Linked DNA regions of Homo sapiens: all the other regions are linked to region 1. The links come from fine-mapping of genetic effects on gene expression. A gene starts in region 1. Each other region holds a variant in brackets. All regions are shown on one strand. Distances are from middle to middle.

Region 1 (4,067 bases):
AGAATTGCATTTAAAAATAAATTTAAGTAAAAGAAATAAACTGCATAAAAGAAAACTATTACATACATAAAAGTAACAATGGTTCAAAGAAAGGAAAACCAAACACAAACTAGATGAGGCTGGAATCCAACGGATGACCTTTAGAAAACAGTGCTCTTCACCATATTTCCTGCCCCTCACCCCAGTTATGGGCTTTGGTGCTGGCCTTACTTCTTGAACAGCAATTGAATATCTTAACCAAAATATTATCTGGAAACACTTCATCTAGTTACTGGTGAATGCAGCTAGTTGGAAACACTTCATCTAATTACTGGTGAATGCAACTCTCTAGTGATCCTGTCACAGATCCCAAATACTGCGGGCCAGACGGTATTTTCATTCTGCATTGATCAGATTGACATGTTGGATGGAACCCCCCAGCCCTTGGCTGCCCAGCATGTCTCCCATGCCAGGGTGTCAGGAAAGATATAAGAGCAAAGAGTACATGACCAATAAGTCATGGCAGCTAACACCTAAGACACTGGGTTATTTTGGAAATCTTAAGAATATCTAGGTGATTATCTATCTATCTATCTATCTATCTATCTATCTATCTATCTATCATCTATATTTTACTAACAGGCATTCTAGTATTAAAGCTATGTTGACTAATTTCCATCTATTCCTCTTCCTTAAAGCTCGAATTCCCCAGTCTTCTATGATACCATGTTTGCACATTTTGCTCTTTCCTCACCCTCCTCCCCTTTTCTGGGACAGAAGCTATATTCAGTATGTTTGTGAGAAACGGTTGTAAATAGGCTGCCTTAAAAAAAAAAACAAAAAAACAAAAACAAAAAACACATTTTTTAGTTCTTCTAAACACAAACAAAGGCAATAAAAATTCCCAATGCTACAGGTATTTTAAAAGACATCATTGTCACGAGGTAATTTTGCTTGTGTGTTCCCCAAGGAACTGAAAAGTACATTATAGTCACTGTAACCCTGCTGAGTAGAGACAGTATCTTCTCTTTATTCTTTGTTATTACTGATACTATCTGTTCAGCACATTAAGGAAAGAAATTGGTATCTAATATAATACATCTGCATTTCTCTCATTTCCCATGAGCACCACAAAGCCAGTACTTTTTCATCCTTGGCCCTGCCAGAGTAGAATCCAAGGCCTGAACAATAGTAGGCTTAAGTTTTGCATTTTTGATGTATTCTTTAAGTGAAGGTGGTAAATATTGATATTGGTAAATATCAGTAAATTCGTCTTCTTAAAGCCACAAGGTCAAAGAAAAGACAGGTTCCGTCTTCCTAGGCGGGGTACCCACAGCCCCGCATCTGCCCACTGTGGCTATCCCAGTTCCTGAGAACCTGGCTACATCATACACAGCACACAAGGCAGAGGCCTGACTAGTGCAACTCCAACAAGAGAAAAGACCCCCACTCCGAAAATGGAAACTCATCCCATTCCCATGCACAGACAGGGTGAGGGTGAGGAGTGGGCAGTGGGTGTGTACGTGGTGGGTGGTGTAGGTTGAGAGCGTCTTCCCCCTTCACGGCTGCAGCAGGAGCTCAGCGGGCGCCCCAGCCCCTTGGCTCGCGGCCCTGCCCCGACCATTGTCCGCACACCTCGTCCCTCCAGCTTCCGGGCCGCGGGCGAGATGATTTGCTGCAGATGACATCAGCCCCGGGCCAACGGCTGGAAGAGCGGAGGCAGCCACCGCGTGAGGATGTGCCGGGTGGTCCTTTCCTCCTCCTCTTCCTCCTCCTCCCGGCTCCCTGCCTAGTCTCCATATAAAAGCGGCGCCGCCTCCCCGCCCTCTCTCACTCCCCGCTCCTCTCCGCCGCGCACTCTCCGCGGCGCTGGGAGAGGGCGGAGGGGGAGGCGGCGCGCGGCGCCAGAGGAGGGGGGACGCAGGGGGCGGAGCGGAGACAGTACCTTCGGAGATAATCCTTTCTCCTGCCGCAGTGGAGAGGAGCGGCCGGAGCGAGACACTTCGCCGAGGCACAGCAGCCGGCAGGATGGCGACCGTGGTGGTGGAAGCCACCGAGCCGGAGCCGTCCGGCAGCATCGCCAACCCGGCGGCGTCCACCTCGCCTAGCCTGTCGCACCGCTTCCTTGACAGCAAGTTCTACTTGCTGGTGGTCGTCGGCGAGATCGTGACCGAGGAGCACCTGCGGCGTGCCATCGGCAACATCGAGCTCGGTAAGTGGCCCCGCGCCCCCAGAGACGCGCGCTGGGAGACGCGCAAACACGACCCCACCCAGGGCGCGACGGTCACTGCGCTCCTCCCGCGCGCCCCGCACCCATGCCTCTCCTCGTCACCTCTCATACTTGGTCCAGACCCTTTCTGGGCTAATTAAGAATAATCCGAATTATTAGATATGAGACCCAGAGGGAGAGTCTCCAATAACCTTGAGGGATCTGTCACCACGCTGAGTCCGCAGCCTGTGCTGAGTTGGCCACCGCCTCTCCCGCTAAGTGAAATGCAGGTGTCAGGGGAGCAGAGGCCACAATAAAGCCGCAACCGCAGGAGGCAGAAGGGTGGGGGAGACCTGATGCAACCACTCCTTTCAGTCCTCTTCTGGCCTCAGGAAAAGGCTGGGACCCCCACCACCGCAGACCTGGGGCCGAAGCCCATGTGCCAGGGCCCGCGTGGGATTCATCCTCACCACGGCTACCTCAGCCCCTGAGAAACGCCTTTTCTGATTTCAAACCTCCCGATCCTTTCTTTCCTCAGAATGACTAGGCTAGTCCTAGGGCCACGCCCGCTCCCCCCGCCCCCCCCTCCCCGGGGAGATGCTGGGATGCAGAACCGCCTGCGCTTCGCCACCAGACAGAGCCCGCCTCGCTACCGCCCTTGGGGCCTTGGCTGCAGCTCTCAGAAAGGACAATGGGACCCCAAGTTGCGGGGTGGGGCTGCTGCTTTTAGAAGTCCCAGCCTCGGGAGTGGTAGCTTGAAGGGGGTCGGTGAGGGAGACGTCAGCGGGTAGGGTCAGCTCCTCGCCCGGTGCTCGCACCAGTGGCGCGCTCTGCGGAGGCCGAATAGCGGTACGCCGGGGACCCTGGGCGGGGCCGTGAGGGTCCGGCGGGCACAGCCTCGGGCGCACAGAGAGACCGCCCCCAGCCCCACCCGAGCTGCCGCAGTGCCTCCGGACCGCCCGCCACACCTGCCCCCCCACACTGCGGCGCCCCCGTCGGGCACGGCTGGCTGGGCTTGCGCTCCGCCCGGGCCTCGGGCTGGCGGGGGCCGCGCGCCCCCACCTCTCAGTTTGCCTGGCTTTGTTGCCCTGGGAGTCCCTGGGTGGGCAGCTCTGGTCTCTGCCTTTCCCTTTATCCCTGGCGTCCCGGCCCTCCCCTCGCTCCTGACAGAGGTCGCCGGGTCCCTCCGCAGCCCCAGCCCGCGCTCTATTCTCCTGGGGTGGTGCTGAAGCGTTTCTCCGGGAGACACCGGTTGGTGGGCGTGGTGCAGTCCGCACTGCGGTCTCTACGGCAGCCCGAGGCGGACAAAGGGCGTTCACGCAGCCCTCGTTCCCCACTCCCCCTCCCCAATAAAAGACGAAAGAAAAACCTTGTTTTAGATGAAAAAATAAATGCTTGTCATCTGCCTCTGCAGTTGGAAACGGCCACTTGTCCCCAGAACAAAAGGCTGCAGGGTGGGGACTGGAGTTGCAGACCTGGTTCTTTTGTTTAACTTTAAAGCACTTGATTTTCCCTTTTAGCTTAAAAAAAAAAAAGAAAAAAAATGTGAGCAGAAAGTCATAGTATTTTATTCCAAAAAATTCAAGAACAAGAGATATTTCAGTAGTGAAATGTCTTATTTGAGCATCTCAATAACCCTTCATTTTCAGACTATATAGGCCTTTGGTCTAATCTGTTCTAATTTAGTTTATTTGCACAATTTTCTCCTGGAAAAATTTTACACATACTGACTTTGGGTGTGGCTATTGTGGGAATCAATGACTTTGGATTTTTTTCTTTAAAAAATTATTTGTAAGTAGCATTTCTGGGAAATAGGAATATATTAGGAGGTGCTTTTCTATCTACAAAATCTTCATAACCATTCGATGTGGTGGTGCTA
Region 2 (4,067 bases), 28 kb after region 1:
CCTGCAGTAAGCTTCTTTTTCCTGTCTTGCATCCTAGGATTAGGGGCAGGTATTTGAAGAGTGTGTCAAAAACTTTCCAACCTTCTTTGAGTCCAGCAGAATGGTAAAGCGTGGGGGCCCAGGAGCTACAGTGGCCAAGTTCAAATATGGGCTTCACCTCATGCACAAGGTCTCTGTGCCTCAGTTTCCTTATCTATGAACCTACTTTACAGAGGATTTATGAAAATTCAGTAGCTATAAGGCATGTAAAGTGTAGAAATACATTTTTAAGAGATGTTTAAATAACAATGCTTTTACAAAATACAAAGACAGTCTTAATAATGATTAATGCTTTTAACTTGCCATTCAAGGAAATGAATAAGAAATGTTGGTAAAGCAGGAAAAGCTGATTCATCTTGACTCAGTGTTCAAACCAACTGTACCATTATAAAGTCTACAGTATTATTCAGCCATAATTGGTTCAGGATTATGGTTTCTTTGTAGCATTATCAGTTCTCTATACTTGAAGTTCCCAAGAGCCAAACATTTCCATTTTTCTTTAATCAGAATCTGTCACATTTCAAAACTCCCTTTCTTCTTTATGGATATTGTGGAAAATCCCTTCCTGCAACCTCCAGCTTCCGCCAAAAGTGTCACATGCATTCTTATTGTCACTATGTGAACACCTTATGAATGAGGGCTTTCTTTTTTAACTTTAGTTTTCACATGTTTGTGAGTGAGAGTTTTGTGTGTGTACATGTTGTCTTTTGTGACACCACAGTTTGATTTGATTGAAAAAGAAAAATGCAATTTTATTTAAATTGCTACTTGGGGATATAAACTTTGTATCAGAACATCAAGCCTGAATCCATGGTCAGTGAAGTCCTTTGATTTCTGCTCCTTTTAGTATTGTCGCAGCAAGACTCCCTCACTGCATTAGTGGGTTCCATTGTATTTCCAAGGAGGGCCCAGTGAGAAGGGCTTGCCTGCACCTCACGGCCACCTCCCTTCTTCTGCAGGGTAAGCCTTGTAATTATAGCAGACATTACATTTGTCTCCAGCTTCTAGGGGATGATGTCATTGCATGTCAAACAGGGGATTAGCATGAGGAGAGAAGTCCTATTGACATTTTCATTTTCATTAAGAAGAATTTGGTTTTGCTTCATTTTGTTAACGGAAGCTGTTGTCTTACCACATAGGAGAATTTTTTTTTTTTAAAGAAAACTTGAAAACGTAGAAGCAGGCATGTGCTGACTGCATGAATAAAAATATACTCTGTAGTGGCACTCTATCAATTAGTGAAAGCGTCTGGGACACAAAGCATGCCTGGGAAATCTCCTCCTTTTCTTACAAAAGCAGAATATCATTCTTCTCAAAGCTCACAATGGCCTGGGCCCTGCTGCAGAAAATGTTCCTGAAAAAGGAAGGCAGAGACTTGGCCACTGCTGAGTAGAAAAGGAAGGCAGGCGGCTGGTCCCATCAGACCTCTGAAATATTTTGCTTTTTCGTGATGGCATTGATCTAGTATGTCTTAAAGTCTCATTCCTTATGTCTCAGGGTAAGGCTCTTAGTTCCCTTCCCATATGAAAAAATTAATCAGGAGCGAGGTGGAATCCTGATGTTTCAGATGCTTTGAGCCCAGAGCTGAGTTGGTGGAAGAGTATAATTTTTATCAGTCATTTCCAGCCCCTCCCGCAATAGGAAGAAAATCATTGTCAGACTTGGGGTAGGG[A/G]GTTGTGGCCTCCTTTCAAGCAATCTAACAATAACCCTGAGTCAGAAAATCTAGGTTCAAATACCAGCTCTGGCTTTTACTGGGCTATGTAACTGTAGGCAGCTTATGGGATTGCTCCGAGCCTTAACTTTCTCATCTGTCCAATGGCATTAATTGGCAATAGTACTTGCATCTCAAAGGGTTATGCCTGGTACCTATCAACCATTGTTTTTCACCTCTAAAAATTATTTCCTTTCAAAACATGGGCCAGTGTTCTGAGGTGACCTTATTACTTGAGTGAGTAAAGGTGGTGGTTTTCTTTTTTTCTCTCTCTCTCTCATTTGTGTCAGTGTTTTGCAAGTACAGGTCAGGTAGCCAACTCTTACCAGTCTTGATTTCCTCCTTGTGGAGTAGACCCAGTAGCTATGAGATTGAGGGTCACCTGGATTAGACTGGCTTTGGAATTTCAGGTTTTTTGAATTTTCCCAAAGCACTGGAAGAAAAAGAGTCCTTGTGAATTTTTCTTGGGAGTTTTTAGAAACCCTTACAATAGTTCTCAGTTCTCCATATTTGGATCCCAGAATGTTCCTAGCATCTAGTTTCCCTGGAACAGAGTCATCCTGTGAAAAAGGATGAATCCAATCCAGATCAGACCCTCTTGTGAGGTGATAATTTTCCATCCAGATTTCCCTGGGACCTTTCCATTTGCATTCTTGTTTTGCCTTGAAAGGCAGCTGGTGAGCTATTTCTTTTTCCTCATTGGACTTTTCATGTCCAATTACCTAGATGATTATTGCTCCTGTAGGACTGATATTTTAGAAAGAATTTGGAATAACACTGGGTTTTGAGGTGTAGCCCAACAGGATTTGACCAGGAGTCTCCATTTACAGTTCTTCAAGGCCAGTGCATTTGGTGAGCTGGTTGGAAGGAAACTTTGGAGTGTTCTAGAAAGAACTAGACCATCTGAATCACCTGTCCTGATGCCCTTGTGTGGAATAAAGGAGAAGGCACTGCCTTGTGCTGAGTACTTAAGTGTGCTGAGCACCTAGGTACTAAGTAAAGTGCTAGTTACTGTACTAAACATACCCATGGGCATGTGCTATCCCCTGAGTTTCTCCTGAACCTATGGAATATTGCCCTCATTTCCTCTATTCCCACCCCCAGCACTCCTTGAACTATCTGACATACAGGACAGCTCTCTTACCACAAGCTACCTGAATGTAAATATAATTCAAAGGAAGGACATTACAAACAGGAAATCAGCAATTGACTATGGAAGCTGAAATTGCTGTCTGGAGATGGCCAGATACTCTTTTCCTGGGTGGCTCAAGGAGTAGTCGGGTCATCTTCCCAGGGCCTCAATTGTGTCCTCTCCAAGCTGTCAGTATGGCCCTGTCATCCAAGACTTGTCCTCATCTCTGGGTTCAGTTCTCTGGGATAATTTAAAACCTACCTCCTTCTCCCCAAGACCTCATAATCTAGATGGAAGGAAAAGGGGGACATTCTCAGTTGTTTTTCATAATCATTTTACTACTACCCTCTGTCAGATCCTGCCCCAAGTCACACCTAGCCTAATGTTTTGTACCTTGACTCAATTGTTGGCCAGCCACTCCCTTTCCCTCCAATTAGGGTGTGTCCTTGAGTTGTTTTGTATCCTCTTCTGATTATAAACTATAAACATATACATTTTGACTACTGACCCCAAGCCAAACTACAAGGAAAATATTGTCCAGAGGGTGCTAATATGGGTGCTTAAATAATATGTGAATTATTATTATTTTTTGCCAAGCCCATACCAAGATTTATTTTGTTATTAAAAATGTGTGAACTTGGTTTTGAGTATTTTACATTTGGTCATTTTGAGTTGCAGGGAGATTCTGATTTCTGCATCTTCTTCCACCCTATGGGCCAAGTGCCCTTCACTGCTACTGAAGGCTTGTTTATGGCACATGAAATTGGCTAGGTTATTAGCATGATTTGCATTTTTGTTTATGTCAGAACTGTAGGCTGAGTAATAATTCACAGTACAAAAAAGTCAGTTCAGTTTATTCATAAGGATGGCTTATGACAAAGCAGCAATTCCATTTTTATCTTCCTAGGCATGTCAGACCATTTGCTGATAGATCCTGTAGACTGGTGTTGACCTCCACATATATGAGTGAATTCAATGACCTATTGGCCCTATTGCTATAGTCAATCATCTTGACAGCCTAAATTTCTGTAGAACCTTGAGTGTATTATTTTCTTAGACTAGTCTACAAGGGATGATAGGCAATAAATATGTTCCATGACTATTGTTTTATGTAAGCCACAAATTAAATCATATTTTCTAGTTGAATTACATAAAAAGCTTATGATCTTTAACTGCTGAGATCCA
Region 3 (4,067 bases), 220 kb after region 1:
AGGTGGGATTTGAACACACCCAACAATAGAAACCTGCTCCTAACCACTTCACTGGACTGCCTTTCTGTAAATAAATAGCAACTTTTATTGTTACCTTGTTACTGCAGCTCACAGAACTCTGTTAGTGCGTGATTCTTCGGCCACGCTTGGTCCGTTTTATCTCATGCACAGCCAAGGATCCTAAAGAAAGGATGATGTTTCCCAAATCTACTAAGCTGTGATCAATGATTTCCATGTATCTCAAATGTATTTTGAGTCCACATCTGAGAGGCCTTAACCCCCTCATTTCACAGAGGACAAAACTGGGAGTTCCAGTGGTCATGCTGCAGCTTTTTCCACTACACTGTGCTTCTCCCTGGATAAACCAAAACTAAATATGCCTGTTTTGCATTTAAATGTTATTAGTTTTTTTTTTAAATGCCCTTGATACCCTTAACCGATGGCAAATGCCCATTTGTACTTCAAATCCCAACTTCCTGTCAACCAGTCCCCACACAGGTTTATCACTAGCTACGGTTAATCACTAGCTTCTTTCACACACACAAATAAAACCTGTTTTGCTGAGGATTTGCATTCTCTGGTAGTTCAGAAATTGTTTTTCCCAGGATTTATATTTGTACAGTTTGTACAGTTATATTTGTACCTGTCTAATGGATTATCTATAATAGATGTTAGAGGTAATCCAGCTCTATTCATGTTATTTGCTAACTTCTAAAACAGTCAAAATGACTTTACTTTTTTCTTTCTCTGATTTTTAGCTAAAAGATACCTACTTACAGATAATGTGGTGAAATTAAAAGAATTTCAACAAAAGAAAGTGGCTGTTGCATGTAATCTTTCTGGCACTAAAGGTAATAGAATCTATTTTGTTAATTCTGTCATTTATCTGTCATTTAAGTTTCTCTGTCTTTATCCCTATTCAGTGTCTCCTTCAGTGACTTTATTATGCCTTAGAAAAAGTTGAGACCATTTATTGTTAGTTTCATAGTGAACTCTTATATTTATCTTGCATTTCATACTTTGCTGCTACAACGTCTACAGCTCTCCTCTTATTCCTTCTCTTACGATCCCAGAGAAGTATTAAAGCTAGTGCTGCGATTGGTCTTGTCTAAATCTGTGCCATTAAAAGTGAGGTTTGAGGACCAGCGGCATCAGCATCTATTGGGTGGTTGATAGAAGTGCAGAGAGAAAGGCCCCAGATCATTCATATGCACAATAAAGTTTAAAAACTTCAGATGATTGGCTTTCAAACTTTTTGATGTAACCTTCAGTGAAAAATGCATTTTATGTTGCATCTCAGTACACACAAACATATCTATATATAAATGAAATCAAATGAAACAAAACAGTACTATGTGTGATGATACATTTGGTATTTTTCACTCTGTGCTAGAAAAGTCAGTAGGATCAAAAATTTCTTAAAAAACAAGAGAAACCTGACTACCAAACCTAGGATTTGGCTGGGCATGATGGCTCATGCCTGTAACTCCAGCACTTTGGGAGGCCAAGGCAGGAGGATTGCTTGAGCCAGGGAGTTTGAGATCAGCCTGAGCAGCGTAGACCTCATCTCTACAAATTTTTTTAAAGTTAGTTGGGCGTGGTGGTGCATGCCTGTAGTCACAGCTACTCCAGGGACTGAGGTGGGAGGATTGCTTGAGCCTGGGAGGTCTAAGGTGCAGTAAGCCATGATCACACCACTGCACTCCAACCTGTGTAACAGAGTGAGACCCTGTCTCAAAAAAAAGATAAATCTGGGATTTGCTTTGAAAAAAAATCCAGTGTGTTTGAGGATTGTAGTGTAGAGGAAACATAATTAGCAAAATATTGATAATGATTGAGGCTGGGTAATGGCACTTAGTGAGGGGGATTATTATCCTGTTCTTTCATTTCTTGGGTATGTTTGAAAATTTTTGTTATAAAAAGCTACAAACAAGAACACCACCCTAGGTCTTTTTCCCTTTCAGCACCTGAAAAATCTTGTGCATTCATTCTCTCCCTCCTGCACATAGAGTTCTTCCCAGCATTTCATACCTTTTATTGTGTGTGGATGCAGCAGTGGTCCCTGGGGGTTGTGGATATACCTCCTTGATCCTCCTTTATGAACACATCTAAGACTTTCCTTTTTTTTTTAATAACTCTTGGTGTCCCTACTGACTTTTTCAACCATAGACCCAGCTCTCCTTCCTCTCACTGCCAGATGTTTGTGAGCTCCTGATTAACACATTAACATTCTCTTTGTTTTGGTTTGTTTTTTAAGAGACAGTCTC[GC/G]TCTGTCACCTAGGCTGGAGTGCAGTTGGCACCATCATAGCTCGCTGCAGCCTCAAACTCTTGGATTCAAGCAATCCTGCTTTAGCCTCCTGAGTAACTAGGACTACAGTGCCACCATACCGCCTAATTTTTAATTTTTAATTTTTTTTTGTAGAGATGGTCTCACTGTGTTGAGGCTGGTCTCGAACTCCCAGGCTCAAGCTAGTATCCCGCCTCAGTCTCCTAAAGTACAAGCGTGAGCCACTGCACCCATCCTGATACTTTCTGCCTCCATTCCCTCACAATTCAGTCCTCCAGAAATCAATGTTCTCTCGCTGCTCCGCTAATCATACTGTTATATAATACCATATAGGGGGCAAAAAAATAAACCTTTGGAATGGGGGGAATATATTTATCCCCAGTTGAGTAGGCTCAATCTAGATTTCACTTCAGTCTTTTCTTTCTACCCAGGTATTTTAGATCTATGTGAGGTTTGCAGTTAGGGCTTCATGTCATCCAGTTGTGATTTCCAGTTGTCATAGTCTTCATAAGTCTGTGGCAGTTGTGTACATGTTCTGAAAGGCAATTAATATAATCAGTGCCAATCTGCTCTATTGTCAGACTGATATGTTTAAAGTCCTGTCAACCTTTCATCATTTTGAGAGCCCACAGTGGTACTCTGTTGTATACCACACTATTAACATACTCATCTCTCTGGCATCCTGGCTCTCCCGTGATGGACTCCGCCCTTTCTAGGACGGTTTCTGGTTGATCTAGTCACAGCTTTTCCCTCCACACCTGTCATTCCCAGTTCTGTTCTGTTGCTCATGCTGATTTCCTTACCTAGAATATCCCCCTCCTCCATTTCTCCAACCTGATTTCAGCCCTTTCCTTTCTCACTGGTACCCCTCCACTTTCACCAACCTGGTCTGTTCTGAGTCATAATAGTAAAGGTTGTAACAGGACTCTTCTGTCCACTCTGAGTTGTAATAGGTGTCGTAACAGGACAGAAGAGTCTTATTATGTTTATAGTATTCATGTGTCACCTCCTCCATCATTGTTTTCAGGTAGCTTTGTATAAATTTAGCTTGCCCTCCCCAAAATGCTTTTAAGTTCTTTGAGGGCAGGAACTATTCCTTACGCTTCTTGGTGTCTCACACACAAAGAAGGATACTTCCGAGTATGATTATATGATAAACAAATGTTGATTGATTTGTTTTAAAACACAAGTTATATCTGTTGAAATACTGGATTCTTAAGGTGTTGTTTTTTTTTTTTCTGAGACAGAGTCTTGCTCTGTCACCTAGGCTGGAGTACAGTGGCATGATCTCGGCTCATTGCAACCTCTGCCTCCCAGGTTCAAGCAATTCTTGTGCCTCAGCCTCCCTAGTAGCTGGGATTACAGGCGTGCACCACCACACCTGGCTACTTTTTGTATTTTTGGTAGAGACGGGGTTTCACCATGGTGGCGAGGCTGGTTTCAAACTACTGACCTCAAGTGATCCACCCACCTTGGCCTCCCAAAGTGCTGGGATTACAGGCCTGAGCCACTGCACCCGGCCTCTTAAGGTTTATTAAGGAGGATTAAGGAGTACAAGATGTAACGTCATCTCTTTGATGACTTGAGACTTTTTAGACTGGAAGTTGCTTAGAAATATTTAATAGACTAAATCCTCTTAGATCTAACAGGTGACACAAGGAATGAAAATGAGAACAATAATGTTTCTATTTACTGGCAGTTACCGAATGACAAATGCTTTACATATATCATCTCAGGTAACCCTGTGAGGAAGGTACCACGATCCTTAATTTACACATGA
Region 4 (4,067 bases), 93 kb after region 1:
TTCAAGATCACAGATCTGAACAGTCCTCAATGTCTATTGAATTTGGCCAAGAATCTCCTGAGCAATCCCTTGCTATGGACTTCAGTCGACAGTCTCCAGATCACCCTACAGTGGGTGCAGGCGTGCTTCACATCACTGAAAATGGGCCAACTGAAGTGGACTACAGTCCTTCTGACATGCAGGACTCCAGTTTATCACATAAGATACCACCTATGGAGGAGCCGTCCTACACCCAAGATAATGATCTTTCTGAGCTCATCTCAGTATCTCAGGTAGAGGCCTCCCCGTCCACCTCTTCTGCTCATACCCCTTCTCAGATCGCTTCTCCTCTCCAAGAAGATACTCTATCCGATGTTGCTCCTCCCAGAGATATGTCCTTATATGCCTCACTCACCTCTGAAAAAGTGCAAAGTCTGGAAGGAGAGAAGCTCTCTCCAAAATCTGATATCTCTCCACTCACCCCACGAGAGTCCTCTCCTTTATATTCACCTACTTTTTCAGATTCTACCTCTGCAGTCAAAGAGAAAACAGCAACTTGCCACAGTTCCTCTTCTCCACCAATAGATGCAGCATCCGCAGAGCCCTATGGCTTCCGTGCCTCAGTGTTATTCGATACAATGCAACACCATCTAGCCTTGAATAGAGATTTGTCCACACCTGGCCTGGAGAAGGACAGTGGAGGGAAGACACCTGGTGACTTTAGCTATGCCTATCAAAAGCCTGAGGAAACAACCAGGTCCCCAGATGAAGAAGATTATGACTATGAGTCTTATGAGAAGACCACCCGGACCTCAGATGTGGGTGGCTATTACTATGAGAAGATAGAGAGAACCACAAAATCTCCAAGTGACAGTGGCTACTCCTATGAGACCATTGGGAAAACTACCAAGACCCCTGAAGATGGTGACTATTCCTATGAAATTATTGAGAAGACCACACGGACCCCTGAAGAGGGTGGGTACTCATATGACATAAGTGAAAAGACCACCAGCCCCCCCGAAGTGAGTGGTTACAGCTATGAAAAGACTGAGAGGTCTAGAAGGCTTCTGGATGACATCAGCAATGGCTATGATGACTCTGAGGATGGTGGCCACACACTTGGGGACCCCAGCTACTCTTATGAAACCACTGAGAAAATTACCAGTTTCCCTGAGTCTGAAGGTTATTCCTATGAGACATCTACAAAGACAACACGAACCCCTGATACTTCCACATACTGTTACGAGACTGCAGAGAAAATCACTAGAACCCCTCAGGCATCCACATATTCCTACGAGACTTCAGACCTATGCTACACTGCAGAAAAGAAGTCCCCCTCAGAAGCCCGTCAGGATGTCGATTTATGCCTCGTGTCCTCTTGTGAATACAAGCACCCCAAGACAGAGCTTTCACCCTCTTTCATTAATCCCAATCCTCTTGAGTGGTTTGCCAGTGAAGAACCCACTGAAGAATCTGAAAAGCCCCTCACTCAATCAGGGGGAGCCCCACCGCCTCCAGGAGGAAAGCAACAGGGCCGACAGTGTGATGAAACCCCTCCCACCTCAGTCAGCGAGTCAGCCCCATCCCAGACCGACTCTGATGTTCCCCCGGAGACTGAAGAGTGCCCCTCCATCACGGCCGATGCCAATATCGACTCTGAAGACGAGTCGGAAACCATCCCCACAGACAAAACTGTCACGTACAAACACATGGACCCACCTCCAGCTCCCGTGCAAGACCGCAGCCCTTCGCCACGCCACCCTGATGTGTCCATGGTGGACCCAGAGGCCTTGGCCATTGAGCAGAACCTGGGCAAAGCTCTAAAGAAAGATCTGAAAGAGAAGACCAAAACCAAAAAGCCAGGTACAAAGACCAAGTCATCTTCACCTGTCAAAAAGAGTGATGGGAAGTCTAAGCCCTTGGCAGCTTCACCAAAACCAGCGGGCTTGAAAGAATCCTCGGATAAAGTGTCCAGGGTGGCTTCTCCTAAGAAGAAAGAATCTGTGGAAAAGGCAGCAAAACCCACCACCACTCCTGAGGTCAAAGCTGCACGTGGGGAAGAGAAAGACAAGGAGACCAAGAATGCTGCCAATGCCTCTGCATCCAAGTCGGCCAAGACCGCCACTGCAGGTAGGTTGAGAAGGCTGGGCATTGGATATATGTCACAACCATTCTACTTGCGTTTACAGCCTTTATATTTCCCTGTTTGGCTTTGTACTGGGAAGATGAGGGAGCACAATTGATGCTTTACCTTCCCTGTACTCTTCTCCTCTGCCCAAAGGTATATATCTCAGTCCAGTGTGGCCTTAAGGCTTGGAAATAGCTCAGTGTATGGTTCAAAGCAGCTGTGATTC[A/G]TCACTGGGATTCCTGATTTTGTGCCGTTTTCGAACACAGCAACTACAGCCCTGTTCTAAATCTTCAGAACCAAGGATGTGTCTTTCAGGTGCTTCTGGAAGACTGGTTTCAGCCATACTGGCCTCAGAATCCAGCAGGGTAACACAGGCCAGGAGCTCCCAAAGGCCTAAGGAGAACCAGAGGTTTCACATCAAGACTGGATCAACCAGTCTAGACCCAAGATTTAGAGTCCTTTTTTAAAAAAAATTTTTTTTAAATTAAAAATGTTTACATTTTTATTTAAAACATCACCAGGTTGGAGATAAATCCTCATTAAAGGCAGTGTTCCATTTTCTTATCAGCCAAAAAATACTATAATTTCAGTTGACCAGTGAGTGTCCGGTGAAAATTGAGAGAAAAACATTGATGGCTCTGCTCTTACCCTTCTCTTACCCCATGGCCTCATTAGTAGAGACTCAATGCTATTTCAGATTAAAATTCCACTGGGAAGCTAGATGCATGGCCTCATGCCTGTAATTTCAGCACTTTGGGAGGCTGAGATGGAAGGTTAGCTTCAGCCCAGGAAGTTGAGACCAGCCTGTGCAACATAGCAAGACCCTGTCTCCACAAAAAAAAAAAAATGTTTTTTAATTAGCTGGGTGTGGTGGCACGTGCTTATAGTCTTAGCTACTTGGGAGGCTGAGGCAGGAGGATCACTTCAGCCCAAGAGATCAAGGCTGCAGTGAGCCAGAATTGTATGTATCACTGCATGCCAAGCCTGGGTGACAGAGCAAGACCCTGTCTCTCAAAAATAAATAAATAAGCAAATGAAATGCCACTTGGCAAGAGCAGGTATCCCTGATTTTTGATCATTCATGTTTTTGGTCATGATTCTCAGATTTATCAGGTTCTCAGCAATGACCTGGGCTTTTGATGGAACTGGTCTATGGCAGTACTGCTTCATTTTGTTGCTTCACATCAATCACAAGGATTGGCATTCATACATTTTATTTGCTTTAGGTAATTATTCAGAGATTTTTAGATCACAATTCACAAAGTAATGTAAATGGACCCAAACATGTAAGGCACAACATAATTTAAATAACATTGCCCTGATTTATTAGGGAAAATCTGATAGAGTAATCTTTGGAGCTCTCCAATTAAGTACACTTTAGGATACATTTGTTAAAACTGCAAATTTTTACTTTAAACAATATGGAGTATCAATTTTAAGGCTCAGTTCTCAGCACATTTGGCCTTTCTACATGCACATAGAAAATAATCGGAATTTTTTCATGTTTAAAATGAATGAAAAACCACCAGATAATTAACCCTTTCATCTGAAAGAGTTGACAACTGACCTGCACTTAGGAGAAAACATGAAATCCATTTAAACAGATAAAACCAACTGCAAATTTGCCAGAACATATACATCCTAGCCCACACAATTTTTAAAAAAACTTTTTTTGGACATTTAAAGAGGTAATTTAAAGGCAAAGTAATAAGTGAAAATGAGTTAATTTTCATTTATTTTGGAGATGCTTTTAGATGTCTAAAAAGGCAAAGTTGCAGTACTAATTGACTTTTAAAGCAAACCTGGGCAGTTCTGTCAGTTTGTGCTTCTGTGAGCAATATTCATTTGATGTTGATGGTAGTGATTTAGAGTAGAGGGCGAAATTGGCAGACATGTTTAATTACTGGAAGAACTGTAACTCACAAACTTCTAGTACAAGTCAGAATTCTTTAGGAATTCT
Region 5 (4,061 bases), 100 kb after region 1:
AGTGTCTCCAATAGCTTATGCAGTCTAGGAGCTTTCCAATACTCATTTAATTAAGATTTAATCATTTGCTAATGGAAATCTTACCACCTTTCATTTTCCCTCTGTTACCAAATTTCAGCTCTTAGGAGCTGCTCTACAATTCTGAATTTGCTTTTCTTGCCTCTCTTTAGTCACCTGTCACAGGAGGTTCCTGCTCAGTAATGATATTGTGAGTTAGGATAATAACTTTTTTTTTTTGTGCTTCAGATTTAGAAGAAAAGATCCTGTTTCCATTTGAAAGGAACTGTAAGCTTTTATCTTTTAACCAACTGAACAATACACCAAAAGCAGCCTAGGGATGAGCATTTCTTTGAAAGCAATTAGGTTATTCACCTGGTATTAAAACTATTTACTGTTAAAAAATCTGTGACTTCATGAAGTTGATTTTTAAAGGCAGCATCAAAAACTGAAAAGGAAGGGAAAAAATAGGCAGCTTCTCTGCACTTGTTTGGAGCTCCCCAAAACAGGAGCCATGGAGAAGTGGCATCAAGACCGGGCTGCCCTTTCGAGAACACCCTGTGGCAGTTCAGAGACACGCTTTTCCTACACTGCATGCAGCCCCTCTTTCCAGCACTGGAAAGAAGTGGTCTTGAGCCCAGCTGAGAAGCACTTCACACTCCTCTCTCTTGTTCTGAATGGTGTTTGTGTCAGTCTGCAGCTGTGTATGGTATTATGTCTTATAATCCTGCATCACTTCTATCCTATCCAGTCATATCTAATGTAGAAAATTAGTTTCCAGTGAAAGTAATATGTAGTGCTTTTATGATATTTGTGTGCAATATCCCCTCTTCCATTGAGGATATTTGATGTAAAGGAAAAAAAAAAACTCAGTTCCACAATAAAATACAAAAGTGGCAAAAGTTCATGTGTGTGCTGTGCTGTCTTTTGCTTTGTGTTCCTGAGTTGGGCTTTGCCACTCACGCAGAATGCTGGGCAGTCAGGGCATGACGGCAGGGGGTGACTACGTTCTTTTCAAGATGGGCTCCCTGGCTTTTGGCAAACTGCCGAAAGCATCTTGCTAATGCTTGCAACTGCTACCTCGTTAACTTTTATAGCCAAGCTCTAGAGGATGTGAGCGTGTAAGGACAGAAACTGGGAGGTGAAGGGAAGGAACAATTAAAATTATTGCTTAAAAAAAAGAAAAAAAAAAGGATAGCTGGGTGCAGTGCTACATGCCTGTGATCCCAGTACTTTGGGAGGCCAAGGTGGGAGAATCATTTGAGCCCGGAAGTTCAAGGCTGTAGTGAACCATGATTGTGCCACTGCACTCCAACCTGGGCAACAGAGAGAGACTCTGTCTCTAAAAAAAAAAAAAAAAAAAAAGAAAGAAAAGATAGACCAGACCAGAACCTGTCATATTCAGCAATTGTGCTCAGTACCTATCTTTTTCTTAGTTCCTTGCTCACTGTTACAGAATATCCTCTATCTAACATAATATGTTGTGGATTTGACTCACACCCAGGAACTAGCAGTTGTTGGGAAAAAGTGATTATATATGTAGCAAAGAATACCTAACAAGAGGAGGATTTCCTCCCTGTCATTCAAATGATTATTACACATTTACCCTGTACCTGGCAGTAGGTTATATTACAAGATATAACCTAACTGCTGCCCTAACTGATTGGGGGAAGACAGACCAGCAGAGGCAATGATACCACATCGTGATGGGGGCTCCTAAAATTCAAGAGCGAGCTTAGGTGACCATAGGAAAAGCACCGCAAATGATGTCTCGGCTGAGCTCTGGAGTGTGTGTGTGTGTGTGTGTGTGTGTGTGTGTGTGTGTGTGTGTGCATTGGTTGGACCAAAAGTAAATTCCAGGCAGAGACAAGAGCTCACACAGGGTCTCAGCAGAGAGCAGGATCAGCATATGTTAAGGAGCACAGACTGCTCACAATGGCAGCATGTAAATGGGGGAGGCCCTGGCACTTCAGTTTCCCACCATGTGGCCACAAAAAACATGCCCATAAGGTTCTTAATAGAGACCTCCAAGACTGGG[C/T]CCTGCCTGTCTGCAGAGATGGTCCTTTAGCCTCAAAAGACCCCAGCAGCCTGTCCTGAGTTATTATGATATCCCTCTGTGTGTCATATCCACTCCTTTTGATCTTAACATTTCCCCTCCAAACCATGGGGCTACATTGAATGGTCCTATCAGAAATCACTGCTTGCTAAGAGGGATTCTGAAATCCCTCCAGAAATTAAAGGGTTAAGCATGTGAGCACTCAGGGTGGGAAATCATCACTTACAGATTTTAATTTCATCTATCAGACTCAAATTAAATAGTAAATAAGTTGTTTTCTATTCCACTGCCAAATTGTTCAGTTCCAGGAAGCCTTCCTTCTGGCCTGAAGCCAGGGTGGCCAACTATCTTGGTTTGCTCAGGACTGCCCTGATTTCAGCACTGAAAGTCCTGTGTCCCAGAAAACCCCTCAGTCCCTGGGAACCAGTGAGGGCTAGTCACCCTACCTGAACCCTGCCCTGCTGTTTACATCCCCTTCTCCCCCCATCTAGGCACAATGGAGGGGGAAAAGTTGGCGGCAGCTTTCCTTCAGTTTCTTTTTTCCTATCTTCTGAGAAAATCAACAAAGGTCTGTTGAGGTCCTGTGATCATATTTTCTCTCTCTTCTTAATTGTACCGCTCATTCTGGATGATTTTCTATATCCCTACAATGCTTTTTTTAACACACTCCTGACTCATGAATTCTTGGTCCCTTGCATAATTCCAGAACTATTTCCTCTTTGATCTTGTATTGTATGCCTTGGAAATTCACCGGAGCCATATATGCAGTTTTGGTCACACCTAGTTCGTTTAATATGAGCAGTTCTTCTGGATACTTCTCCAGGGGTTACTGGCAATGTTTTCACAGATGGTGGAGCAGGGCTTCTGAGGTCTGCTTGATTCACAGGGAGATCTCGCCGTACACCAACAGACACAGCTCTATTTCATGGCTCAGATTGTCCCCACTAAAACCAGAAATGCATGCTGCTTTAATGCAGTCTCAGGAATTTAAATGCCATGTGTAAACTGATGATTTTTATAGTTATATCTGCAGCCTGTACATCATCCCTTACCTCCAAATTCATATATCCAGTGCCCATTAAAATCTCCATGTGGATATCCAATAGGAGTCTTTAAAATACCCTAAACCAAATGTAACATGTCCCCAAACAAACCCCTGATCTCCATTTGCAAACTGCTTCTCTCCTAGGCTTTTCTACCTCAGTAAATGGCAAATACATATTCTTGTTGTTCAGGCCAAAAATTTTGGCCCATCAGCAAATCAACTGGCCGGCAAGTACTGCTGGCTTGACCTTCAAAATATATCAGTCTGATACCTTCTCCTCACATTCACGGTTACTACCCTTGTCCAAGTCAATCATTTCTCTCCTGGTTTATTGCAGGAGCATCCTAATTGACCTTCCGGTTTCCTATCTTTGCCCTCCTAGCTTATTCTCCATGTTGCAGCTACAGTAGAGTAATCCTCTAAAAATGTTAAGTCAGATCATGCCACCCATGCTCAAAGCTCTTGAGTAAGTTCTCATCTTAGAGTAAAAGCCAATGTCTTTACTGATGGGCTAAGAAGGCTTACACAATTCATTCCTCCTCTACCCCTTCTCTCCGACTTCATTTCCCACTTCTTTCCACCTTACACATTCTGCTCCAGCCATACTGGCCTCCTTGCTATTCCTCAGGCATTCAGCCTTTCATCTCAAGGCCTTTATGCTATTTCCTTTGCTCAACATGCATTTTCTCCAGGTGATTCCACGGTTTTCAATCTCACCCATGTGGGTTTTTGTTCAAATGTCATTTTCTCAGGAAGGCCTTCCCTAACCACCTTATCTTAAGTTGCAATCTCCACCATTTACCTAGCACTCTCTTTTTCTCTACCTTCCTGGTCTCCATATGACTATTATTTTTGTGATCAAGGTTGGGGCAAAGCCCAGTGTGGTGGCTCACACCTGTAATCCCAGCACTTTGGGAGGCCAAGGCGGGTGGATCACTTGAGGTCAGGAGTTTGAGACCAGCC
Region 6 (4,067 bases), 83 kb after region 1:
GGAGGACACATATTTTGATTATACTCAGGCAGGTATCATTATGGTCAGAGACCATGTCATATTCTCTTCTGCCACCCACAAAGAAAGGATGCCACAGCTAAAGTGAATTGAAAACCACTGGACTGGACCAGTGGTTATCAGCCTTTTGGAGCTAGGATTGCCCATTGTTGCCTTGGAAAAATGGTTGAGTAACTGAATAACAAACGGACCTTGAAGACCACTTGTTGTCCAGCTCTTTTCCTTTTATCCAGTCCTTGAAACATACTAGTTAACTCCAGGGAAACCAAAACCACAATTTGGGACAAACAAAAATGATACTTTTTAAAAAATATAAGAACAGCTAAAAATAAATGGACTGAAAAAATAGAACTATCAGTACACTTTGAGCTTCAGGTTTTGGAGTCTTAATCACTGGAGATCAATTAACAAAACCAGAACTAACAGACGGTACAATTGTCTGGCTAACCCCACTCCTCCCTGAAATCCAGGGATGGTGAAATCATCATCTCCTGGGGACATTTTTCAGTCTCTGTGTTGGAAAGTTTTTCCTTATTTGTCTCATTGTATCTTCAAGGAAGTGATGTGATCCCTTTCCCACCTACAGTGTCTTAGTTACCCTTCACCAACACTGCCGATTTTTTCCCTTTCAGATTAATCATCTTCAGTTTTACCCACAGTTCTTCATAACCCTGCTCACTGTCCTTCAAACTTGTTCCTCTGTCAAGAAAGGGAGGTGAAGGCCAGGTGCTATGGCCCATGCCTGTAATCCCAGTACTTTGGGAGGCCAGAGTGGGAGGATCACGTGCGGCTAGGAGTTCTAGGTTGCACTCAGTTATAATCTGCACTGCACTCCAACCTGGGCAACAGAGCAAGATTCTGTCTCTTAAAAAAAAAAAAACTATACTTAAAACATTAAAAAAATAAAATAAAAAGAAGAGGAGATGGGATGGGTATGGGGGGAATTCAGGAGTTTAGTCCTGGTCATGTTTTAGTGCCTTGAAATCAGACAGTTGGATTTATGAGAACAGAGCTCAGGGAACTCAGAGTCGGGCTGGAGATACTAATTTGAAATCCATTAGCATATTAGAGGTATTTGAAGCCCAGAAGACACATGATGTGACCTAGAGTGAGAAACATTTTAAGAAGAGAAAGGGCCCAGGTCCAGTGTTGACAGGTCATAAGGCCAAGAGGAAGGAGCCAGTAAGGGAGACTTGTTTCAGGTTTTTGCTTGTTGGTCTAATTTCTCTAAAATGTCATGACTCAAACTGGACACCCTATTCAGGAGTCATTTGACCAGGTTAGGATTGTGAGAGTTGATAATGTCTATAGTTTTCAATACCATCTTCTATTAAAGAAGTCTAAAAGTGACTTTTGACCATCACCATACACCATTAATGGTCAATGGGGAAGTCAATGGGGAAGAGATGCAGGCTTTGAGGGGCTCGACAATTTATATAATTTAAGGGCTCTTTTTTAAGAAAAATGAAACAATTATTAATATACAGTTAAGTACAGGGCCATGCCAATGAGGTACCTTGAAGTTTAAGCTTCTTTGGCTTCATGATAAATCCATTTGACTGTCAACTAAAAT[C/T]CCTGAGTCTTTTCCATGGATATTATTGTTAAGCCACATCTCCCAATCCTGTAGTTTACCCTGCTGGTTTATTGAACCTTACATTTATCCCTTTAGAATGCCATCCTGTTAGAATTGACTTAGCCACCATCATCCCAATGTCAAGAGCTTTTATAAATACCTTAATTCTGCCATTCCACATTTTGCTGTGTCTCCCATTTTCATACCATGCACAAATATGATATGCATGCCTTCGCCATTTTTATCCAAGTGAATACAGGCCAGAAAATGAGACTTGAGGCAGCCCATCATAGACCTCCCTCCAGGTTGACATTAAGCAGCACTATTTATATGGCTGGCTGGAAATCCACCTAATTCTACTATCACACTGTTCAGGGGTCCTATTAAATGTCTGGCTAAAACCCAGAGATACACTGTCTACTGTATTTCCTCATCAGCCAAGCAAGTAACCTAATCAAAAAGGAAATGTAGTTCGTAGGCCATGGTTTAGAAATTCAAATCTTGTTTCATTAATCTCATCTGCAGTAAAACCATTTATTTCTTACATCTTCCTTCCTCTTCCAGTATGCCTGCATTTAATCAGAAAAAGTAATTAACAAAAAAGATTATCTTTGTCCCAAAGCATATTCCTCCTTGTTGCATCTGTCATCCAACTTTGTAAGAACCAGGGTAGCACTCAGTGTGGTTACATCTGAAGTACCCACTCCAGGAAGATAACATGTGTTGAACTGGCCAAGTTTGGCACACAGATCAACAAACATCTACTGAGCCTGATTATGTATTGAGGAAACAAAGATAACTAAGATACAAAGATACAGAAGATATATTTCCTGCTATCAGAAATGTTTAGAGTAGTGGGTTATAATAGTTACCATTTATCATGGTGATGATTTCCCAATTTGTTCAGAAGAAGCCTCAGTTTCCAAGTCTAAGAACTAGTCACAAGCTTCCTTGCCACTGCTAACATTGTTGGATCCTCCTTATGGTTCTCATCTATTCATTGAATAAGCTTGGTCAGGTGCTGCCGTGGGCTGGCCACTCTTAAGACCCTGTCTTTGCCCTTGAGGCACTCTCTACTGTGCTTGTTGGCCCACAGGTCTGGAAAGAGGCTGTGGGGGAAAACACGGGCTTCATTCTGTTGTGTAGTTCCAAGGATGTAGGAGTTGTTCTTCCTCCTCCTCCCTCTGCCCAATTCCATCTGTCTGTTTTATGACTGAGGGCTCTGTCCAGCCCTGTCTCTGCATTCTTGTCTCATCATTCAGAATGTGCTGCTGTTTCTTCAGAGGGACCAGATTTTCCTTCTCTGGAAAGAAACCTGTCAAAGCAATGCTGGCTTTCTTTTCTGCTTTGCCTTGTACATCACGGTTGTTCATTCACCAGTGTCTCTTGGCTATCTTTCATGACCTCTGACTTCTCAGAATTCTGTGCAATCTTGTTTTGTTTTGGGGTCATTTCCTGCATTTCATAGAAATTCTCTGGATAGAGGTGAAAAGACGGAAAGTAGGAAGATATTCCTTAAGTCTTTCTACCTTCTGCTTCAACCTGGTAATTACATACTTTACATAAAAAGAGCCAGTGATTGAATGCCCCCTACTCACAGCTGGATTATACCCTTGGCTGCCACACCTCTCAGCTAGGGTGGAATTTCAAAAATTAAAATGAACTAAACTTAATTTTTAAGTTTCACTATTAAAGATACAGCAGTTATTCTAGATTTGCCCCCTAAAACATATTATAAAACATGAATAGTTTGCATGTGCTTTGTGTGAAAATTGGGATCTAGAGACTTTTAATTGTGCTATAGTGATTGTGATGAGAGTCTCTGCTAACTATTGTACAAAAAACCATATTTGATGCCCTATGTTTGCTTTGGCCAGCAAATCATTTGAGCAAAGATGCCTGTCCCCTCTACCCAAAGATGGTATTACCATTTGCTTTTTCACTTTTCTTAGCTCCCAAAAACAGGAGTTGATTCTTATCCTTTTTACAGAAAATTGTGAAGTCACAGAAAAACAGCAAAGTTTTATTATTTTGTTATTTTGCGGCCCTTTACATAAAATGTTATGCTTAGGACTAATATGCTAACAAAACAAAAATGACTATTTTACTGCAATATTGCAGTCGAATATAGGAAAACTCAGATTCTATAAATTATTCTTACACACATTCATAATAGTAGCCTCAGAATGCTGATAGTCAGGAGATAGAGGAAACTAATCTAATACTAGAAGGTAAGAGTTCAGACCTGCTGGCTCAGGGATGCCTGGACCAAATGAAACCTTGGCTTTACCCCTTGATCATTTGTCATCCAGAATACAGAGCCCTTTTCAGTCGAAACTCTGAGCTGATTTGTGAGCTTTACTGAGACGGAAAGAATATTGGAGTTGATGGCATGATTCTCCATCACTAATTTGCTAGGCTAAGACCATGAAATATATGGCCATAATATGGAGTGAGAGAGACAAGTAGTGTTTTT
Region 7 (4,067 bases), 140 kb after region 1:
TTACTAGCCCTGTTCTAGGTGACGTAAAATTATGTAATCTAATTCCTTTACTTTATAGAGGAGGAATCTTGATGTATATAGTGAGATAAAATGATTTCCCCAAGATAGTTAGCAATAGGACCTAAATTAGACCCCTCACTTTCATTATTCCACCATTGCCTCTCAACTTATTTGTAGGACATCTTTAAAAAACATTTTTGTGGTTTCACAAAGGTCTCTAACAGCGAAAAATAAACATCTCTTCTAAATTTAGGAGCAGAATCAACAGAAAAATAAACTCAGTGTAAAACAGTTCTGGAATTGCCCTGAACTAGCTGTTTAACTTTGGAAAGTCACTTGATCCTTCAGGGTTTCAGTTCCTGCAACTGTAAAATGAAGAGGTACGGTTATCTGGATCACAAACTCAACTGTCTACAGGGGCCAGTCAGTTAATATAAATGCATGAATCATGTAAGACAATAGGTACAAAGCTGCTTGTATTACAATCAAGCAAAGTGATTTCATTATACTGTTTATAAAAACACAGCTTACGGGCCAAACAAAATACACTTGAACTCTGGACTAGACCAGACCCCCGGAACTCCTTCCAGCACTTAAGTTTAATGACTGTAAAAGACAATAAGCCTATATCTACTCATTAAAACATCAGTCATATACAAGTTTCTATTAAACCAGAAAAATGGCAGTGATACAAACAAGTGAATAAAGACTCAAAGATAAACGAGCAACCATTCAGTCCACAGCTGATTTTACTTTATTCCACTAGCCTCCATTCCCCCACCATATGGTACCCACTTTGGGCAGGCAACAGAGATTATTATTATGGGAATGGTGGGCCCTGCAAATTGGCATCTAAAATTTCAAGGTGAAATGATAAAATCAGCTAAAGTTAAATTTAAGGTCCCTAAAGTACATTATAACTGAAGATCAAGTTTTATAGAAAATAAAATTTTCAGCAATTGATCACTCCATTAGTAAAGCATTTTATTTTCTACTCAAATATTTCAGTGCAATTCATCTTATATCTAAGAAAGTCATCCAAAGTAATTTTCCTACATAATATAAATTATTGTTTTATATACTGTTACTTTATCAAACCTCTGTTATCTGGCAATTCCTATAGCAGAAATGGTTGAACTCTAAAAAAAGGGGAGTAGGATAGGGTGGGCATAGAGATATTAAGAAATTACTTGACAGTTTTTGGAACATAATGACTATTTGTAGTTTAAAAAGGAAAGATATTTAAAAATTGAGACTTATTATTTGTGAGTCCAATTGGTTTTTAGAAAGGTTTACTTTACCACTCACCAAACAAACAAAAACCCTTAGTTGTTTACATGTAAAGACAGAAAAATTAAGGTGACCTTTCTTTCTTCTGCTGCCAAATAGTAAAACTCAGTATGACTATAATACATTTAATAGGCAGCTCCTCTATTTAGCTCAAGCTAGTCTCTCATACCAAAAACCAAATTTTTAAAAACTGAATATTTGAAATTATACAAACAAAATATGCTAAGAAAATTCTTAACAATGACCAAATGCAAACTTCATGTCATAGGAAGGTTAAGTACCAGAGGCAATTCCTTTTAATAGGATGACAATCATAAGAAGGAACAGTTACAATTCTGAATATGAAAGAGCTGTTTCTTTAGTAATAAACCAAATACAAAGTTCCGGGTTCATCTGTTCTGGCTGGCAAATCTTGCATAAAAAAGCCATACTTTAGCTAAACAAAAGCTTTTAGGCTGGCCCAGAAAGAGGGAATGAACAATTTGAAAAACATCTTTTACTGCCTGAGAAAATTTAAAAAGTGTCTGAAAGTGCCAGGAGACCTGCCTCAATGTGACTCAGGCAGCTTTCCAAAGTCCCTCAGCTTTCCTAAGTATGAGTCATAGGGGAAGGAGAGAGGGCTCCTTGGCAAAGATACAGGTTTTCCTCTCTGGTTCCACCCCCACCATTTTCATTTAAAAAAAAAAAAAAAAAAAAAAAAAGCTTTGATGTATAATAG[TTAAA/T]TAGATTCCAGACAGGCTTAACTGAAGAAGTTTGAACACCAGGGAGGCAAAATATCATTGCAGAAGTTGCTATTGTTTGCTATTGTGATCCACAGACACAGGGAGCATCTTCTGCATCCTAAAAAGGGCTCGGCCCATTGATCATGTGTCAGATCATGGCTGCACTTTGTGGGAGAGAAGAGGATAACAAGCTATGAAAATACCTCTGCCTCCCTAGTTTCTTAAACACCACAAGCTCATATACTGAACAATTACACTGAGTTCGAAGGGGTGGGAGCTTGTCCTTTATGAGTGCACATTAAGCAGAATTTCAAGTGTGGTAGCAAGTAGACTGTCCACATATACATGGCTGCTACAATGAATGCAGCCTTTAGTGAACAGATACACTTTTTCCTTCAATAATCTTAGGCAAAAAAGTAAGAAAGCTGGGATTTTTTAAGCATGAATAAGGCAAAACTGAATGTTAAACTGCAGAGAGAATAGTTCTACTTCTATACCTATATGAAATTACTTATTACAACAGAATGGAGCATTTGATGAGGTCAAAGCTCCTCTCTTCTGCATTTGATCATTTATCAACCTACTATGAATCAGGATATTATGCTGGGCACTAAGAGACAAAGAAGAATAAACATCTCCTTGCCTTCAATAAGGTTAGATTGGGATGATCAAAAACAAGTATTTTCAGCCCCGCGTGGTGGCTCACGCCTGTAATCCTGGCACTGTGGGAGGCCGAGGCGGGCAGGTCACTTGAGGTCAGGAGTTCAAGACCAGCCTGGCCAAAATGGTGAAACCCCGTCTCTACTAAAAAATACAAAAATTAGCCTGGCGCAGCAGCACGTGCCTGTAATCCCAGCTACTTGGGAGGCTGAGGCAGGAGAATCACTTGAACCCGGGAGGCAGAGGTTGCAGTGAGCCAAGATGGCGCCACTGCACTCCAGCCTGGGCGACAGAGCAAGACTCCATCTCAAAAAAACAAAAACAGGCTGGGCGCAGTGGTTCACGCCTGTAATCCCAGCACTTTGGGAGGCCGAGGCGGGTGGATCACGAGGTCAGGAGACAGAGACCATCCTGGCTAACACGGTGAAACCCCGTCTCTACTAAAACAATACAAAGAAATTAGCCGAGTGTGGTGGCAGCTGCCTGTAGTCCCAGCTACTTGGGAGGCTGAGGCAGGAGAATGGAGTGAACCTGGGAGGCGGAGCTTGCAGTAAGCTGAGATCACGCCACTGCACTCCAGCCTGGGCGACAGAACGAGACTCCATCTCAAAAACAAAAAACAAAAAAACAAAAATAACAAAAAAACTCCAAGTATTTTTTGAGCATTGATAACAAGTTTAGAAGGTTAATTTATAAGCATCATAGGTAATTTCCCATGTATATAACACTGATTATTTCATAACACCCTGATAATAAATTTTGAAAAACTGGCTCTCAATAGGAAAATAAATCCAACTTTTCTCTCTTCTTCCCAATAGTCTGTCTTTTTTGTTTCCTTGGGTATATTTAAGAAATAAAAATGTTAGAGATAATGTTGTACCCTGCTTCTCTCACTTTCTAGAACAAGAAAGTTGGTGTCCATCATTCTCATGTTATACTTTTACTACTTAGGGATATGTTCTGTGTTGAGTTTTTCAAGGTGCATGACTTTTTGACTCTGCATTCAAGGGCCTGTCTGATAGAGAACTGAACCAAACCACAGTAATGCTGCTTCTCCAGGGGCAGAAGAGTAGGGAAAGAAGTGACAAAATTACTGTTATCACAGACATGAGAGAGGACTCGATGCCACTTTCACTGTGAAAACTAATTGCACTGCCACCAGGTAAATCTCTGACAAAGTGCTGCTCTGTGTTTGATTAGAACCCAGCCCCGACTCACTAACTGAGTCATTTAACCTAAGAATCAGTTTTATCATTTTTAAAATAGAGATGATAATACCTTAATCACTGGGTTATTATGAAAATCACATAGGAGCTATTTAGGCATTTTGCCGGCTTATAATTCTTTTTGGAACCAAACACAGTAAAAATATGCACATATACAAGCAATACTAAA

Alleles and levels. Alleles are on the strand shown, and positions count from the first base shown. SD is a standard deviation of normalised expression in the study named. Not every link is listed here.
For the expression in transverse colon of the gene that starts at base 1,951 in region 1, allele G in region 4 goes with a higher level than allele A (small effect, 0.19 SD a copy in GTEx).
As copies of C replace T in region 5, the expression in tibial artery of the gene that starts at base 1,951 in region 1 goes down (large effect, 0.76 SD a copy in GTEx).
As copies of C replace T in region 6, the expression in breast of the gene that starts at base 1,951 in region 1 goes down (small effect, 0.36 SD a copy in GTEx).
As copies of T replace TTAAA in region 7, the expression in prostate of the gene that starts at base 1,951 in region 1 goes up (small effect, 0.19 SD a copy in GTEx).

Evidence for each region.
Region 2: its variant is fine-mapped to the expression of MAP1B in whole blood (INTERVAL, PIP 0.98).
Region 3: its variant is fine-mapped to the expression of MAP1B in tibial artery (GTEx, PIP 0.93).
Region 4: its variant is fine-mapped to the expression of MAP1B in transverse colon (GTEx, PIP 0.98). The same link has a PIP of 0.9 or more in coronary artery, nasal epithelium and prefrontal cortex.
Region 5: its variant is fine-mapped to the expression of MAP1B in tibial artery (GTEx, PIP above 0.99). The same link has a PIP of 0.9 or more in anterior cingulate cortex, aorta, atrial appendage, cerebellar hemisphere, cerebellum and cerebral cortex.
Region 6: its variant is fine-mapped to the expression of MAP1B in breast (GTEx, PIP 0.97).
Region 7: its variant is fine-mapped to the expression of MAP1B in prostate (GTEx, PIP 0.98).

Annotation. Positions count from the first base shown.
Region 1 is chr5:72,105,525-72,109,591 of GRCh38, forward strand. MAP1B (microtubule associated protein 1B) reads left to right here and starts at 1,951. Exons shown (of 7, transcript NM_005909.5): 1 at 1,951-2,191. The coding sequence starts at 2,008. It overlaps LOC105379028 (a long non-coding RNA gene), which reads right to left. Exons shown (of 3, transcript XR_007058813.1): 1 at 3,251-4,067; 2 at 2,401-2,463. RefSeq lists enhancers at 1,870-2,852, 3,258-3,552.
Region 2 is chr5:72,133,395-72,137,461 of GRCh38, forward strand. All of the region lies in intron 2 of MAP1B (microtubule associated protein 1B), which reads left to right. Among named protein-coding and RNA genes, the nearest start is that of MAP1B, 28 kb to the left of the region's middle. The variant A/G (reference allele first, on the strand shown) is at 1,712.
Region 3 is chr5:72,321,414-72,325,480 of GRCh38, forward strand. It overlaps PTCD2 (pentatricopeptide repeat domain 2), which reads left to right. Exons shown (of 10, transcript NM_024754.5): 2 at 759-851. Among named protein-coding and RNA genes, the nearest start is that of PTCD2, 3.1 kb to the left of the region's middle. The variant GC/G (reference allele first, on the strand shown) is at 2,268.
Region 4 is chr5:72,198,259-72,202,325 of GRCh38, forward strand. MAP1B (microtubule associated protein 1B) reads left to right here. Exons shown (of 7, transcript NM_005909.5): 5 at 1-2,109. Among named protein-coding and RNA genes, the nearest start is that of MIR4803, 31 kb to the left of the region's middle. The variant A/G (reference allele first, on the strand shown) is at 2,334.
Region 5 is chr5:72,208,667-72,212,727 of GRCh38, forward strand. MAP1B (microtubule associated protein 1B) reads left to right here. Exons shown (of 7, transcript NM_005909.5): 7 at 1-899. Among named protein-coding and RNA genes, the nearest start is that of MIR4803, 41 kb to the left of the region's middle. The variant C/T (reference allele first, on the strand shown) is at 2,036.
Region 6 is chr5:72,188,810-72,192,876 of GRCh38, forward strand. All of the region lies in intron 4 of MAP1B (microtubule associated protein 1B), which reads left to right. Among named protein-coding and RNA genes, the nearest start is that of MIR4803, 21 kb to the left of the region's middle. The variant C/T (reference allele first, on the strand shown) is at 1,592.
Region 7 is chr5:72,246,704-72,250,770 of GRCh38, forward strand. All of the region lies in intron 4 of MRPS27 (mitochondrial ribosomal protein S27), which reads right to left. Among named protein-coding and RNA genes, the nearest start is that of MRPS27, 72 kb to the right of the region's middle. The variant TTAAA/T (reference allele first, on the strand shown) is at 2,009.